Linked DNA regions of Homo sapiens. The protein of the gene in region 1 interacts with the protein of each later gene in a pairwise test. Each region holds a gene or a part of one and is shown in the gene's direction. Other genes may lie near its edges.

Region 1 (4,174 bases):
GCACCGAGAGGGTACGGGACAAGTGGAGGAGCTGGGATTTGCACCCAAGCGCTTCCTCTATGCTCTTAGCCATGATGCTCTGCTGCCTCAAAAGAACGGCCAGCTAGTGTTAGTAATAATAACATTTACCGATGTCATCGTTTGGGGTTTCATGTAGTCCTTGCAACAAACCTATGAGCTGGGCCCGTGATTCCAGTTTTGCAGAGTGGGGAGTTGGTCACAGAGCTAGTGAGACCAGGCCTCCAGCCCAGTTGGTCCGTCTCCAGGGCCTCAGCTCAGCACCACATCCCTGTACTGCAAGCCTCAGTGGTCAGCACCAGGCGTCCCATGGGGACTTAAGATTCCAAGGCTTTTGAGCACTGCTAGAAGTTTGGGGTAAGATCTTTTACTTTTTTTATATTAAAAAAATATATTTTTTTGAGATGGAGTCTCACTCTTTCGCCCAGGCTGGAGTACACTGGTGTGGCCTCGGCTCACTGCAACCTCCACCTCCCGGGTTCAAGAGAACCCGGAGAGGGAGAGCCTCAGCCTCCCGAGTAGCTGGGATTACAGGTGCCCACCACCATGCCCGGCTAATTTTTGTATTTTTAGTAGAGATAGAGTTTCAATCCAGGTGGGAGATGGGGTTTCACCATGTTGGCCAGGCTGGTCTCCAACTCCTGACCTCAGGCAATCCGCCCACCTCGGCCTCCCAAAGTGCTGGAATTACAGCCACTGCCCGGCCTGGGGTAAGCTTTCAATGTTGTAACTCCCTCCAGAACCTCATGGCCTATGAAGATGGCCAGGTGGGCCTGGGCCCAGGCTCTGAATGGCCTGCTGCCTCTCTCCTGGACACAGCATTCAACTTCCTGGCTGGGGCTGGGAGTGCAAAGATTTGTTTATTTGTTTCTTTTTTATTGAGACAGAGTCTCACTCTGTCGCCCTGGCTGGAGTGCAGTGGTGCAATCTGGGGTCGATGCAGCCTCTGCCTCCCGGGTTCAAGTGATTCTCGTGCCTCAGCCTGAGTAGCTGGGATTACAGGCATGCGCCACCAGGCCTGGCTAATCTTTTTTGCATTTTTGGTAGAGATGGGGTTTTGCCATTTTGGCCAGGCTGGTCTTGAACTCTTGACCTCCAGTGATCCACCTGCCTCAGCCCCCCAAAGTGCTGGGATTACAGGTGTGAGCCACCACTCCCAGCCTGGGAGTGCAAGGATTTAAATAAAATCTTGTGAAAGTTCAGTTTGGCTCCTTCAGGGACTCGGCCAGGCCGGGGGGCAGCACAGGAGACAGGCTGACTCCCCTGTACAGATGGATGGGGAAACACAGGCAGAGTAGGGACAGGGGACTTACACCAGGTCACACGGGGAGCCTGTGGATGAGGCAGAGGCAGGACTTGGGCCTGGGTCTCTGCGCTAAATGACTCCTGGGCATCCTGCTGAACTCTCTCCCAGAAGGAGATTGGCCTCACATACCCCACTGACCCCTTCCTAGCATGCTTTTTGCCAGACCCATTGAGACTGGCTGAGGACTGGTTGCCATAGAGATGGCCTGTTAGGCAGTTCTACGGTGCGGATGGGGGATGGGGCAGGATGGGGCAGGACACCGATATGCTAAATACCTACCAACAGTTGGTTAGGACCCCGTCGGTGCGACCAGGGCAGGACGTGCGGCTCCAGGCTCCAGGAACCAGAACGGGGCTGCTCAAGCTGCTGTCGACCGTCTCTCAGGACAAGCAGGTGAGGGAGGCCCAGTGAGGACACTTCCAGCTGCCTAGAGCCAGGTGGGTCAGGGAGGCCTGGGCTGGGGAGGCCCTTGAGAAGCCACAAGACCTGAGCTGAGGTCCAGATGAAACTCAGGGAGGCAGGAGTGGGACAGGGACCACAGGGAGGCCTAAGGGCCTTGGGAGAAGCCGAGGGATGACGCCCAGGAGTGACTCCCAGGGATGATGGGGCCATTCAGGGAACACTGCGGAAGGAGCAGGTTTCAGGAAAGATGAAGACCACCTTGATGAAGACCACCTTGGTTTCTGCCTTGGCTGTAGCAGGTCCAGGGCCCAGTGGGACATTTGGGAGTGCAGTCCAGGGCCCAGAGGTGGCCTAGCGCAATGGTGACAAATCTGGGCTCCACCACTTCCCAGCTGTGTGACCTCAGTTACTCAGCCTCTCTGAGCCTCAGCTTTCTCCTCCACATGATGGAGGTGATAGTGAGTACCGGCCTCCTAGGGTCCTTGGGAAGGTTACGTGTGTTTATGCATGAAAGTCCTGAGCACACAATAGGTGCTCAGCAGGTGGCAGCTGTTGCTATTTTAATATGCAGAACGGAGGTGGTGCTCGGTCGGGTTTTTTTGTTTGTTTGTTTTTTTGAGATGGAGTTTCACTCTTGTTGCCCAGGCTGGAGTGCAATGACACAATCTCGGCTCACTGCAGCCTCCAACTCCTAGGTTCAAGCGATTGTCCTGCCTCAGCCTCCCAAGTAGCTAGGATTACAGGCGCAGGCCACCACACTCGGCTAATTTTTTTTGTATTTTTAGTACAGATGGGGTTTCGCCATGTTGGCCAGGCTGGTCTCGAACTCCTGGCCTCAGGTGATCCGCCCCCCTTGGCCTCCCAAAGTGCTGGGGTTACAGGTGTGAGCACCACATCCAGCCCTGTTTGGTTGGTTTTTATGGTAACGAGGGCCCAGAGGGACCCAGCCAGGCCCAGCCAGGTGCACAGAGGGAGCACCCGGGTGAGGTGCAACACAGTCCAGGAGGCTGCTCAAGCTGGCTGCTCCTCCCCTACTGTCTCTGCCCAGGGCTGCCTGGGGAGTGGTGATGGTGTGCCAAATCAAGACCTGCAGCAGAGGTCTCAGAGCTCAAGGCAGACAGCAAAGAAGGACCGCAAGCCCAGGGGCCAGAGCAAGAAAGGACAGGGCTCTGAAGAGTCTGAAGAGTAAGCAGCAGTGGGATGGGTCAGGAGGCTGTTGGGGGTCAGGGCCCTCTGGGGGCTGGCGCCGACCCTGACCCCCACCCTTTCCTTCTTCAGTCACTTCCCGCTTCTTCCTCGGAAACCCTCCTTCCCCTTCCAGTGGGCCTGGGAGAGCATCGCCACAGATGTCCGGGCTGTGCTTCAGCCAAGCTCCCCAACCCCTGGCCACCAAGCCCTGCCCATGCCCTCCTCGTTCTCCCAGCGTCAGTCCAGGCGCAAGTCCACGGCCAACCTCCCAGAGGCCCATGGCTGCTGCTGGAAGACAGAGGCGCAAAACCTGAAGGCGAGACAGCAGCTGGGAGCCTGGGGCGGTGTCTCCATCCCTACTGGCAAAGGGGAGCTAGGATCAGAGCCCCCCAGTGGTCTCCAGCTGCCTGGGAGGAGGCCAGGATCAGGATCGGCGTCCGACAAGCAGGTCCAGCTGCAAAGCCTGGGTGCTGAGGAGGCCGAGAGGGGTCTGAGTTCTGGGGTGCTGCCCCAGCGCCCCAGGAGGGGGTCGATCTCAGAGGAGGAGCAATTTTCAGAGGCCACAGAGGAGGCTGAGGAGGGAGAGCACAGGACTCCCTGCAGAAGGAGGGCTGGTTGTCAGAGAAAGGGGCAGATTTCTGGAGAGGAAGCCTCCGATGAGGGAGAAGTGCAGGGCCAGAGCCAGGGGAGCAGCCCCAGCTTCAACAACCTCCGAAGGCGACAATGGAGGAAGACAAGGGCCAAGGAGCTGCAGGGGCCATGGGACCTGGAGAAGCTGCACAGGCAGCTACAGAGAGACCTGGACTGTGGTGAGCGTGGGGCTCAGAGCCTGGATTCCCCCGAAGCTACACCGCAGGGAACAGGGAGCAGTCAGGGAGGCAGGGGCTCAGGCAGGCTGGGCTGTGCTCTGGGTGCTGGGGGGCGTTGCCTGGTGGGCTGAGAGGGAGAGGGCAGCCCCTGACTTGGTCCCACTGTGGGCAGGCCCCCAAAAGCTGCCCTGGAAGACTTTGAGGGCTGCCTTCCAGGCCTCCAAGCGGAATGGAAAGGCCTATGCCTCGGGATACGATGAAACTTTCGTGTCTGCCAACCTCCCTAATCGCACCTTCCACAAACGACAGGAAGCCACCAGGTAAGAGGGAAGAGAAGGGAGTGGGAGCCCAGAATGAGAAGTAGAGATGGAGCCACTTCTCCAAGAGATGCTTAGGCATTTGAACTCTCATTCATTTCTTTATTTATCCATTCACCAAACTTTTGGATCAT
Region 2 (4,297 bases), about 65 Mb from region 1:
AAGGAGAGCCAGGAGGGGCTACTGAGGTGGGACCTGCCTGAGTCCCCAGCTCGTTCACCCATACATATACACTGAATACTGCTAAGTTAAACATTTTCTAGCATTACACGTTCATTGTTTTGTTTTGAGATGGAGTTTCGTTCTTGTTGCCCAGTGCAATGGCACAATCTCGGCTCACTGCAAACTCTGCCTCCCGAGTTCAAGTGATTCTCCTGGCTCAGCCTCCCAAAGTGCTGGGATTACAGGCGCCCACCACCACACCTGGCTAATTTTTTGTATTTTTAGTAGAGACGGGGTTTCGCCATGTTGGGCAGGCTGGTCTCGAACTCCTGACCTCAGGTGATCTGCCCCTGTCTCAGCCCCCCAAAGTGCTGGGATTACAGGCGCCCGGCCTACATGTTTATTGTTTAAAAACCGGGAAAGTATAGAGAAGAAAGTAAAGGCTCCCCACCCCTAGAGATAACCGCTGAAAGTATTTGGTCTGTTTCCTGCCCGGCTTTTTCCTACACACACTTTTTGGCGCCTTAAGTCGGGCTCCCCCCGGACAGGAGGGGCCCCTCCCAGGCGCTGGTGTCTGCGCCCGCCCCCCGCAGCCTTGTCCCTGCTCCGGGGGGTCCCTGGGTCTCTGGGGCATATCGTTGCTTCACTGCTCGCTCGAGCCTCCAGGGATCGGGCCGCCGGGGCAGCGCAGAGAGGCGGGGACAGGCGACAGCGGCGCAGAGTGGCTCCTCCCGGGGCCGGCCCAAGCGGGGGTCTCGGTGCCTGCGAAGCGGCAGGGGTCGCTCGGGGCCCAGTGCCCTCTACGTCCCGTCCGGGTCCCAGCTGGGGCGGGGCGCGCCCAGTGTTTCCGGGAGGAGCGGCCCGGGCGCGCGGCAGGTGCGGCGGCGCAACTCGCGGGTAGGCGACCGCTGGTCCCGCCGCTGAGGCCCCTCCACTGCCGCCCGCCCGGCACCCCCTCCGGGCCGCCGTGGCCCGCGCCAAACCTGAGCGTCTCGGTCGGGAACTCCGGTTACCCCCTCGGGGCGCAAGGCGGCAGGGGTAAGGGCGGGGTTGTCCCCCAGAGTTTCGGGGAGCACAGGAGGCTGGCCGCCCCACCCCACCAGCCCATCCTCCCACCTCCCTGGGGCCCTGCTGCCGCGCGGCTTCCGGCTGGGGTGGACCTCAGGTCTAGCCGGCAAGCCGGAGGGCGGGCGAGACAACAACGTGGCCTGGAGGCAATGGCCCTGGCCTCTCGTGTCCCCTTCTCTCACCCGCCCAGACTTGCCCTCTTTGGAGGTCGCCCGGGCTAAGGAACATGGAAGGACGCTGGGTGGAGAGTGAGGGGAGAGGATCCCAGCTCCCCGGTGGGGGAAGGCGGGTGTTGGTGGGGAGCAGCTTTGGGAAATCCGGGATCAGGACATTGTGTGAAGGACAGGTGGCTCTGGTTAGGGGGCGGGGCGTCCCTGCAAGGAGGTGGGAAGGGAGGCCCCAGGGAGTTCTGAAACGGGGAAGGGCCTCAGTGTTGTGGGGCAAGGGTGTTAGGTCTCGAATCTGGAAGTGTTCCTGAGTGGGGCGTCAGAGGCGAAGGGCTCTGCAGGCTGGGACCTTGCCCCTGCACTCTGTGGGCTCAGTTGTGGGGAGGGAGGGGCCGGTGGGCAGGAGGGAGAAGTCTGCCCTGCCTGCCAGCTGTCATGAGGCTGGGCCACACAGGCCCAGGCCAGGGGCTAAGGACTTGGTCAGGACTGGCTGAGCCCTCACTTGGGATCAGATCTCCAGTTGCAGAGTGTGAGGGGCTCCTCCCTCACTGACCCCAAGCCTGCTCCTCTCAGCTTTCAGGACCCCACCTTCCTTATCACCAGGTCTTCTCCACTGGCCCCTGAGATTGCCATCACCTCCAGCTCCTCCTCTCCTGAAGTTGGCAGCCCCTCCTGGGTTCCAGCCTCCTGAGATGCCAGACCCACTGGGGCAGTACCCACAGGCCCTGAGCCTACATCAACCACCCCAGTGACACCCCAAGCCTGCAGCATTTTCCACCCCCAGCCCCCTGGTCCCACCTTGCCTTCCGCCCACCTTCCCACCTGCTGCAGGGAGGGCCCTCGGCTGAGCCTTCAGACACACTTGCACCCCATCCGCTCCCCTCCTGAATTTCTTCTGACCCTCCCTTGGCTTCACAGCACCTGAAGGCCAGGCTGAGGCCCCCTGCTCTCATGGCCAGCCCTGGAAAGCCTGGGGCTGATGAGGCCCAGGAGGAGGAGGGGGAACTCGAGGGGGGCTCTGCAGGGCCGCGGGCTGCAATACTGGAGCAGGCTGAGGAGCTGTTTCTGCTGTGTGACAAGGAGGCTAAGGGCTTCATCACCAAGCACGACCTGCAGGTGAGTCCCCCACCCCAAGAGACTGCTTCGGCCCTGGGTTGACCGCAGCGGCTCATCTCTGCTCTCCTTCCCCGACCAGGGTCTCCAGAGCGACCTGCCCCTCACGCCAGAGCAGCTGGAGGCTGTGTTTGAAAGTCTGGACCGGGCTCACACTGGCTTCCTCACCGCCAGGGAGTTCTGCCTGGGCCTGGGTGAGCCTGTGGCCTGCCTATCCCCCACTGCCCAGAGCTGGAGGCCTGATCAGGAGGCCTGGCACTTGTGGCGCCCTGAGGGCTGCCGGTGCCTCTCGTCCTCCTCCCTCCAGGGCCCGTGCTTTGTCTGCACGCACTCGCGCCTGGGGGCTCCTAGCTGCGGTGGAGTGTGTGGAGCTGACCTTCCTGGCCCCCAGCTCCTCTCCTGTGCTAAGCTCCGGTAGGGCTGGGAGCTGGCCTGTCACCTCTTGTTTCCAGGCCAATAGGACCAGAATAAGGAAGGAAAACAGGAAACTGGGCCCTGAGAGAGGGCAGGATACTCGTTGGGAGGGTGAACGGGGACACAGCCACGGTGGCGACCCACAGCCCTGGTAATCGCTCGCTCCATGCCCGCAGGGATGTTTGTGGGGGTGGCGTCAGCCCAGGGAGCGAACCCCTGCAGGACTCCCGAGGAGACCTTTGAGTCGGGCGGGCTCGACGTGCAGGGCACGGCGGGCTCTCTGGATGAGGAGGAGGAAGAGGAGGAGCGATTCCACACTGTGCTGGAGCAGCTGGGGGTGGCCCCGGTCCTGGGCAAGTGAGTCGGCGCTGGCCCCGCTCCCACTGCCCGCTCTGCTGTTTCTCTGCCTGCATGCTGTCTGCCCTTGTCACCCGAGTGCTGGTTCTGCACAGGGTCTCTAGGCCGGGTCAGGCCCAGCCTAGCGTCAGCTGCGATTCCCTGGGAGGGACCCGGCATGATTTCCCGCAGAATTTGCATTTCATGAGGCAGCAGCCAGGGCTGCAGGGAGGAGGGGCAGCGCCGGGCGCGGGGCCACATACCGGCACTGCCCAGGGTACACACACCTCACCGACCACGCACGCCGGGCAGGGGCGAAAGCGCTCACGGGAGGGATGCCCTGCACGCAGCAAGTGCTCCTGTCCTGCCCAGGGGCGAAGAAGTCTCCTAAGGGTTTGCTGCTGGCGGAGGGAAGCCTGCTTCCCGCTTCTGCCAGCTCCAGCCTCAGTTCCCGCCCGCCCTCCAGGCAGCGGGCTGTGAGGACGCTCTGGGCCAGGCTGCAGCGCGAGCGCCCCGAGCTGCTGGGCTCTTTCGAGGATGTTCTGATACGCGCGTCGGCCTGCCTGGAGGAGGCGGCCCGGGAGCGCGACGGCCTGGAGCAGGCGCTGCGGAGGTGAGGGCCGGGGTGGGGTATGGGGGCCAATGGAGGGCCTCAGGGCAGCAGCAGAGGCGGTGCCAGGGGGCTGTAGCGCTGGCAAGTTCTCATCCGGGGTCGCCCGGTCCCCCGAAGGCGCGAGAGCGAGCACGAGAGGGAGGTGCGCGCTCTGTACGAGGAGACGGAGCAGCTTCGGGAGCAGAGCCGGCGCCCGCCGAGTCAGGTGGGCCTCGGGCCCCGCCCCTCCCGCCAGGCCCAATCCCACCTCGCTGGCCTCCCTGGCTCCGCCTTCTCTGAATTAATCCCTCCCCGACGGCCCCACCTCCGCGGGTCCAGGCTGCCCTCAGCCCGAGGAGATCCCACTGGGCCTCACGTATCACCCCCGTCCGGTCTTCTCCACCCGACCCCGCTCCGCCCGGGCCCACTCCCAGCCCCTGGCCCTCCGTGTACCTCTTTTGCATGGCCGAGCGGCCGGCGGAGGCTCAGTGGTCCTCCGTGCGTCCCAGAACTTCGCCCGCGGGGAGCGGAGAAGCCGTCTGGAGCTGGAGCTGCAGAGCCGCGAGCAGGACCTGGAACGCGCGGGCCTGCGGCAGCGGGAGGTGAG
Region 3 (3,500 bases), on another chromosome or scaffold:
CCCGGGAGGCAGAGGTTACAGTGAGCCGAGATAGTACCACTGCACTCCAGCCTGGGCAACAGAGCAAGACCACCTCAAAAAAAAAAAAAAAAAAAAAAAAAGCTGACATGGTAGGTATCTATGGAATGGGTCACAAATTTGAGTATGCATTATAATCACCTGGAGATCATCCTAGGCCTACCGAATCAGAAACTCTAGGTGCCCAGGCATCTGTAATCTTTGAAGCTCTCCAGAAGATTCTGTCACCTCTTGCAGACCGAGGACCACTGAGCTACCATCATCTCTTTGTTCCTTTGTTTTCTCTTACACAAAACTTTATTGCTCAATGAAAAAAGGCTTAAGCAATACCCCCTTCCTTCCTTATTGGATCTGGTTTTCAGTACAGATTATATGCATGCCTGAAAAGAAAATTAGAAAGCAGAAGCAGATTTTTGGTAGTTGGTTGTCAATTTTCTTTTGAATTCTTCACCTCCATGCAAATTGAAGCAGGACTTATTTTTAGCAACTTGATGAATGCAATTTACCAAAGTTTATTACATTATCTTTTATTACAATAAGACAGGAAGGTCAGTGGAATTGTCTGATTTTTCTTTCTCATTTACCATAGTTCTCTTTCTAGGAACTCATAGTACAGAATCAAGCTATGGGATATATAGGTTATTTTGATTCTCTATTTGTGCCCACTTCTATATTTTTGTATAACTTCAGTAGTGTATACACTTTTAACCTTTTTGGAGACATTCTTAGGAATAGCAGTCTCTTCGTTGACTTTCTGTTGTAGTTTTCCTAATGTTTGCTCCCTGGTGACCAGGAGACCTTCTATGTCAGTGGAGACAACTCATCCAAGGCTGGCTGAGCCAAGAGAGGTGGGCAGGAAGGCCAGGTGAAGGCCCCCTTCCCTCCTTTACCACACCTCAATAGAGAATCTTTATGTCTCCTGTACCCTTTCTTTTTCTCTTATTAGCACATTATGGACTTGCGCCTTCACATGAGCTTGGGCCCTTACCTGATTTATAATTTGCTATCTATGACTTTATGGTTGTTCAATCTTGAGAAGGAATGACTGTCCCTGGACATCTTCCAAAACCATTTTCTATATGATTGAATTGTACTTGACTCTTCTTATTGTGATGAGATGATTTCCCCCAATAGCTTTTTAATGGCTGTAGGAGAGCAATACAGAGCACAGGACCTGTCTAGGATAAGCAGGATACATACAAATGATCCCTAGTGTCCCAGGGCGTGGTACAGTCCCTTATCTACCCATTTCCTTCCATTGAAGTGCCTTGTAAGGCTTGGCCAACATGTAAGGAAGGAAGGCATCTCTCACCTATTCTTGCCTTGTTCATCAAAATGCATCCATTCCATCTCATCCACTTGTTGCATGGTAGACTATATTGGGTACTAACTTAAGCAGATGGGTACAGCTCAACTCTACGCAAACTAGCTAATGTGCTTTCCCCAGGTAGCATAAAATGTTAACTTGATTGCCATGCATAGACTTTTAAAAGTTGCTAAGGAGTTAGTCCTTTAAACGAATAGTATTTATTGTTTTATGGGGGTTTTTAAATTATGAAATGTGTGTGGACATTATAAAAATTTTGGAAAATACAGAAAAGCAAAAGGAAGCAATTTAAACCATGTATAATTCCACAACTCAAAGAAAACTATAATTAACACTTTGATGTGTATTACTCAAGTTTCTGTTTCAGAATGCTGCACATTCTCTTTCTCCATAACTACTTTTTATGCCTAACAGAGTATATATGCTTTTCATGCCATTAGATAGCCTTCTAAACTCTGTGACTTATGTAGAAGCCAGGACCTCATTATTGTGCATTTAACTTATTTCTGAATTTCTGCAAAAACAAGGTGGTGATGAAAATATTTTGAGCAATGAGTTTCATACACTTTTGCATTATATCTTTAGAATAAATGCACATATGTCAAAACAAATGCACACTTGAAAAGCTTTTGATACATATTACTAAACTGACTTCCAGAAAGATTCTATCAATTACCAATTTTTTAAAATAATGAATAGACTTTGTTTGCAAAATCATTAAGTTGCAAAAACAAAGACACCACAGGAGTTTTAAATTAGACTTTTTTTTAATCTAGAAAAAAAATTTAATGTACTTGCTTAGTTCAGCAGAAGCTGAGAGAGGTCTCAAGACCCTGAACAATAATACTGATTTTATTATTTTATCTTATTTTATGTTTTTAAGTTCCGGGGTACACGTGCAAGATGCGCAGGTTTGTTACAGAGGTAAACATGTGCCATGGTGGTTTGCTGCACAGATCATCCCATCACCTAGGTTTTAAGCTCAGCATGCATCAGCTCTTTTCCCTAATGCTCTCCCCTCCCCCGCACTTCCCCGACAGGCCCCACTGTGCATTATTCCCCTCCCTGTGTCCAGGTGTTCTCATTGTTCACCTCCCACTTATAAGTGAGAACATGCAGTGTTTGGTTTTCTGTTCCTGCATTAGTTTGCTGAGGATAATGGCTTCCAGCTTCATCCATGTCCCTGCAAAGAACATGATCTCATTCCTCTTTATGGCTGTATAGTACAGTCTAACATTGATGGGCATTTGGGTTGGTTCCGTGTCTTTGCTATTGTGAATAGGGCTGCAGTGAACATTGACATGCATGTGTCTTTATAATAGAATGATTTATATTCCTTTGGGTATATACCCAGTAATGGGATCGCTGGCTCAAATGGTGTTTCCAGTTCTAAATCTTTGAGGAATTGCCACACTGTCTTCCACAATGGTTGAACTAATTCACATTCCCACCAACAGTGTAAAAGCATTCCTATTTCTTCACAACCACCATCAGCATCTGTTGTTTCTTGACATTTTAATAGTCACCATTCTGACTGGCATGAGATGGAATTACCAGTATGTTTTGAGAGTTCCCAGAATCCTTACCCATTTGAAAAAGTATTGTTTTTAAAAAATTCCTGCTAACTTTATGGGCAAGAAAATTCTCAGCAGTTTAATTTGCATTTCCTTGTTTAATACAGAAGTCTTTTGTGACTATATTTTTATACTTTTGCTAAAGATTATTTAGTGCATTGGTTAAGTGGTGCTATTCTAACGCCTGAGTGTTCACTTACTGATGACCTTGAGTAAATTCCTTGATCTCCCTATGCTCACACCAACTCTGATAATGGCAGTACCTACTCATAGAATCTGTATGAAGACTAAAGAGGGTATCACATGAAAGATGCCTAGAAAATATCAGGCATATATAACATACGTTTATGTTCTCTGTCATTTACATCTTCTCTGAATTGCTTCACTGTCTTTGGGTAAGTAGATTTTTTGGTAGCTTAGAAATATATATATTAAGTATCTTAACCTCTTGTCTGTCATATATTATAATTTCTCCCCAGTTGGTGGTTTGTCTTTCAATTTTGTTCAAAGTGAGGAAACAGTTGAATATCAAGAAATTCAGACCAGGTGAAGGCATAGTTTTGGTCCAGGGTGGATCTTTT
Region 4 (4,203 bases), on another chromosome or scaffold:
ATAAAACACATTGGATGGAGGGTGCGAGTAGGAAGGAGATTCTTGTCTTTTAATTGCATGTCATTGTTTCATAACAAGGCAGAACATATGGTAACCCTGGCTTTGGACCTACAGAAGGAAACACATTTTTCTACCTGCTGTATGCCAGAGGTTCTTGAACACTTGGAGGGATTACTGCAGCACAGATTGCTGAACCCTACTCCAGAGTTTCTGATTCACCAGGTCCAGGGTGGGGCCTGAGAATTTGCACTTATAAAAAGGTCTCAGGTGCTGCTGGTGCTGCTAGTCCATAGACTACATTTTGAGAACCACTCTTGTCTATTAAGTGTAAATTGTAGAACTCTAGAAAAAAGCTTAGTTCAGTCTGGGATAAGAAGCACACAGGTTATGGAGAAAAATCATGAAAGATTCAACCCTTGATCCCAGCCTAGTGTGGATTTCAGGTAACAAGCAGTACACAGTGACATAACACAATTCTTGGTTTTCATGATTGCAAGTCATAGCCAGGTATCAAGTGAGAAATTCAGTTTCATTTGCAAGGCCTAGAGTGGCCTGGTGATTCTAGAAAAATGGGCCTTGTATTTGTTTTAAACCAGTAAAGAGCTTTAAGTGCTTATTAAATTGTAAGTTTTGTGTTCCTACTTATTTTGTATCTTATTTTATTTTATTTTATTTCTTTTGAGATGGAGTCTTGCTCTGTCACCCAGGCTGGAGTGCAGTGGCATGAGCTTGGCTCACTGCAACCTCCATCTCCTGGGTTCAAGTGATTCTCCTGCCTCAGCCTCCCAAATAGCTGGGATTACAAGCACCCACCACCACACCTGGTTAGTTTTTGTATTTTTAGTAGAGACAGGGTTTCTTCATGTTGGCCAGGCTGGTCTCGAACTCCTGACCTCAGGTCATCCACCCACCTCGGCCTCCCAAAGTGATGGCATTACAGGGGTGAGCCACCGCACCTGGCCCAAAAGCTTTGTGTTTTTAAAGATATTAGACATGTTTCTTGTTTTTAAAAGAAATCTTAACAATAATGTAGGAGAATAAGACAAACATTTTTCCAAAAAAGAGAAATTGTTGTGATTATTCTCTGTTATTGGAATGTCGGATACTATAGTCAGCTTCATTAATCATCAAGAATGCTATGGATTTTCCATTTTTATAGGGTCTATATCTCAGTTAAGGTAATACTTGTAATTCTTGTGCTCCATTTGAAGATGAAAAATATAGGCCAAAATCATAGACTTTGCATAGAAGCTGCATAATGAAGACAGCTCTGGAGGAACACATAGATACACACAGACACACATATATAAAGTATATACACATATATTTTTTAAAGTTTATTTTTAACAGTTTTAAAGCTTTTAAAGCAAAAGCCAGCCCCTCCCCTCTCCCAGAGTGGGCGGCCTCTCCCCTCTCTCTGAGTGGGCGGGGACAGCGGTTGCATGGGCAGCTTTCCTTATGATGCTACAGGTCCCTCTGGACATGCTGCGCCTGGCCACGCCTCCTTTCCCTTTCATCTTTCTCACTGACCAATGGGCTTGGAACATTAAGGCCACGCCCCTATTCTGCGTTCCATTGGTGCCCTGGTTACGCCACCTGTGGCTCAGTTGCACAGCTGCCTGGTAGGTGACTGGAGGCATTGAGCAGTGCTCACTGGTATTTCGCTGATGTGGCCCCAACCCCGCCTCCCTCCCCACCCCGCGATGTCAGAAAAAACACAACAGGGGAAATTGGCCGCAGCCAAGAAAAAGGTAAAACACACCAGGTCATGGCCCCCAACCCAGCCACAGATCCCCTCCGATGACAAGACCGGTGCCAGAGTCCATACCACTCCTGAGGCATACCAGATGGGGCCCCCCAACCCCAGCCCCTCTGGGCTCCCCCAACCAAAGCCTAGTCAGTCAGCCCCACCCCTTCAGCAAGCAGCCCAGTCCCTGCCCTTGCCAATCACCCCAGGGTGACTTTGGGCAGGTGACTCCTGGGGCTCCCTGCTCCATAATCAGCCCTCACCTCCTGCCACCCCAAGCCCAACCTCCCTGGGCTCTTTGGGCTTGCGTCTCCCAGGACCTGGGTCCCCCAGCCCCAGGCCCTGCCCTCACCAGTCATCCCTGGGTGGCTTTGGGCTGGTGACTCCCGGGGCTCCCTACTGCAGACTCTGCCCTCCCCTCCTGCTGCCCCAAGCTCGACCTCCCTAGGCTTCTTGGGCTGGCGTCTCTGAGGACCTGGGTCGAAACCGTGTGTTTCCCTCCCCCATCGTGGAGCAGCGACTCGGGCATCGCGCTGATGTGGTCCCCTCCCCTGGGAGGAGTGGAATGCAATGATGTCACAGTGCCCCTAGGAACTGTCATTACTGCTGCAAGACCGGCCTTTGATCTTACAACCCAGTCCCCTAAGTTTTCTCACCCCATTTCTGGTTCCTCTGGTTGCAGCACAAATTTCCAGCTGGAAGGGGAGTGGAGACTATGGGACCTAGGAGCAAGAGGTTTCAGGCTGCCTTACTCCCTTAACATAGACATTGACAGTGGGAAAAGCCTACACTTCCCCTGTGAGCTCAAAATGTTCACAGTATCTCTGGGTGGCAATGGGAGAATGGGTTTGGTTTGGTTTTTTCCCAGGCTTCTACTTTCCAGAGAGACTTTAACATTTTTTTCTGAGTTCTCCACGGTTCTGGGACCAGACTGCCCTTCAGTCAGTGGCCTCTGAAGTGAGATTTGCTCATCTTCTGTGGAATAGATCTTGGGAAACTGAACTTGACAGCTTGAATCTTCCTCATATCGTCTCAACCTGGGGTACTTTGAGTGCCACAGGATAAATGCGGGACATCTTTCTGAAGCATCATTTTCCCTTGATTCTCTTGAGAAAATGCATTAATGTACTTAGGGATGACAGACACATAGGTTTCCAAGCGTATACCAGACTTCGCTCTGAAATGAGGCTTGGGTTGTCCTCTTTCTGATAAATTCCCAGATTTAATAGAAAAGCTGCCTTCTGCCATGAGGACACATTGATATGAAAGTGTGAGAGGTACTGGTACGCTTCTTCACGCTAGCAGACCTGTGAGGATGTATGACTCTAAACCACACGGCCTACAGTTCCTGCCTGCTTAATGTGTGCTTTTCTACCTCTGCCCCTGGTTTTGGTCCCTGGAAGCTGCTGATTCATGGCAAAACCCCAGAGCTTGGAGTCAGAGGACTGAGTTTAAGTTCCAGTATTGCCTTTTTTGATCTTTCTTTTTTTTTTTTTCTATCCATGATATCAATCCCTCTCAGTCACTAAGTGATTGTGACAACACCTTGTACAGTTGTTGGTGGCATTACATCAGATGGTATATAAGGGTATTTTGTCAAAACTGTAAAGGAGGATGTGGCTGTAGGGGCTGATCATTCTCATGAGTGTTACTGCTCTTCTTTCCCACAGTTAAAAGCATATTGGCAGAGGAAGAGCCCTGGCATTCCAGCAGGAGCTAACAGGAAAAAGAAAATCAATGGCAGTAGCCCTGACACATTCACTTCTGGTGGTTACCACTCACCTGGGGATGTGAGTCTCGGCGGGCCAGGCTCCTGGGGACAGGGAGCCCAAGGGGCAGTAGAGGGTAATTGTTAAGATTGTAGATGGACTGTTGGGTACTGGTTAAGAATTCTGGATTTGAATCCTGCCTCTCCGTCTGCTAAGAATTGATTAGGGATTGATTAGCATATGATTTAGGGCAAGTTGCTTGAGGTCTTTGGGCCTCTCTTTTCACATCTGTATAATAGAGGTGGTATTTTTTGACTTCCATTTGTGAAGTTTAAATGAGATTCGTTATTGTTGCTTTTATGTGAATCCTTAGTACATGGCCTGCTGCAAACACCCAGGACACCGAGGAAATGGTCGTTGCTGTTTGATTTTCCTCATCCCCAGTCTCAAGGGGAAGCCAGGCCAATGAGAAGAGCCACTTGCCATCAGGCTGTCCCTTTAGGAGTCACTGAAAGGGCCCCAGGGTGGGATGGTGGGGAGATAAGAACCACGAGAGAAGTTGGCACAAAGGAGTTATGGGAAAAAGGTTCCAAGATAGGCAGAAAAGAAGCTTTTGCCAGTTGATGGGGGAAGAAAGGAAGTCAGAGGGCTTAGACAGTGAGGGGGGACAGAACATCTCCATGTGCACTCTCATCTCTTGGAGTCAGCAACAGGTATCTACGGGGAGGGCCGTGCATCCTCTACTAC

What was found.
Region 2: the proteins of TSGA10IP (region 1) and CRACR2B interact in binary tests that used the Homo sapiens proteins (3 or more experiments, as listed by UniProt).
Region 3: the proteins of TSGA10IP (region 1) and STX11 interact in binary tests that used the Homo sapiens proteins (3 or more experiments, as listed by UniProt).
Region 4: the proteins of TSGA10IP (region 1) and GOLGA6L9 interact in binary tests that used the Homo sapiens proteins (3 or more experiments, as listed by UniProt).

Annotation. Positions count from the first base shown.
Region 1 is NC_000011.10:65,944,106-65,948,279, forward strand, and holds the start of TSGA10IP (testis-specific protein 10-interacting protein), read left to right. Parts: upstream 1-1,374; 5' UTR 1,375-1,570; coding exon 1,571-1,717; exon of another isoform or gene 1,718-1,761; intron 1,762-2,774; coding exon 2,775-2,911; intron 2,912-3,004; coding exon 3,005-3,723; intron 3,724-3,895; coding exon 3,896-4,043; intron 4,044-4,174.
Region 2 is NC_000011.10:826,422-830,718, forward strand, and holds the start of CRACR2B (EF-hand calcium-binding domain-containing protein 4A), read left to right. Parts: upstream 1-1,497; 5' UTR 1,498-2,186; coding exon 2,187-2,351; intron 2,352-2,430; coding exon 2,431-2,542; coding exon of another isoform or gene 2,543-2,762; intron 2,763-2,938; coding exon 2,939-3,119; intron 3,120-3,546; coding exon of another isoform or gene 3,547-3,564; coding exon 3,565-3,711; intron 3,712-3,828; coding exon 3,829-3,916; coding exon of another isoform or gene 3,917-4,199; coding exon 4,200-4,292; intron 4,293-4,297. UniProt on the Homo sapiens protein: Plays a role in store-operated Ca(2+) entry (SOCE).
Region 3 is NC_000006.12:144,181,517-144,185,016, forward strand, and holds part of STX11 (syntaxin-11), read left to right. Parts: intron 1-3,500. UniProt on the Homo sapiens protein: SNARE that acts to regulate protein transport between late endosomes and the trans-Golgi network.
Region 4 is NC_000015.10:82,428,413-82,432,615, forward strand, and holds the start of GOLGA6L9 (golgin subfamily A member 6-like protein 9), read left to right. Parts: upstream 1-1,403; 5' UTR 1,404-1,667; coding exon 1,668-1,751; intron 1,752-2,370; exon of another isoform or gene 2,371-2,482; intron 2,483-3,417; coding exon 3,418-3,537; exon of another isoform or gene 3,538-4,159; coding exon 4,160-4,203.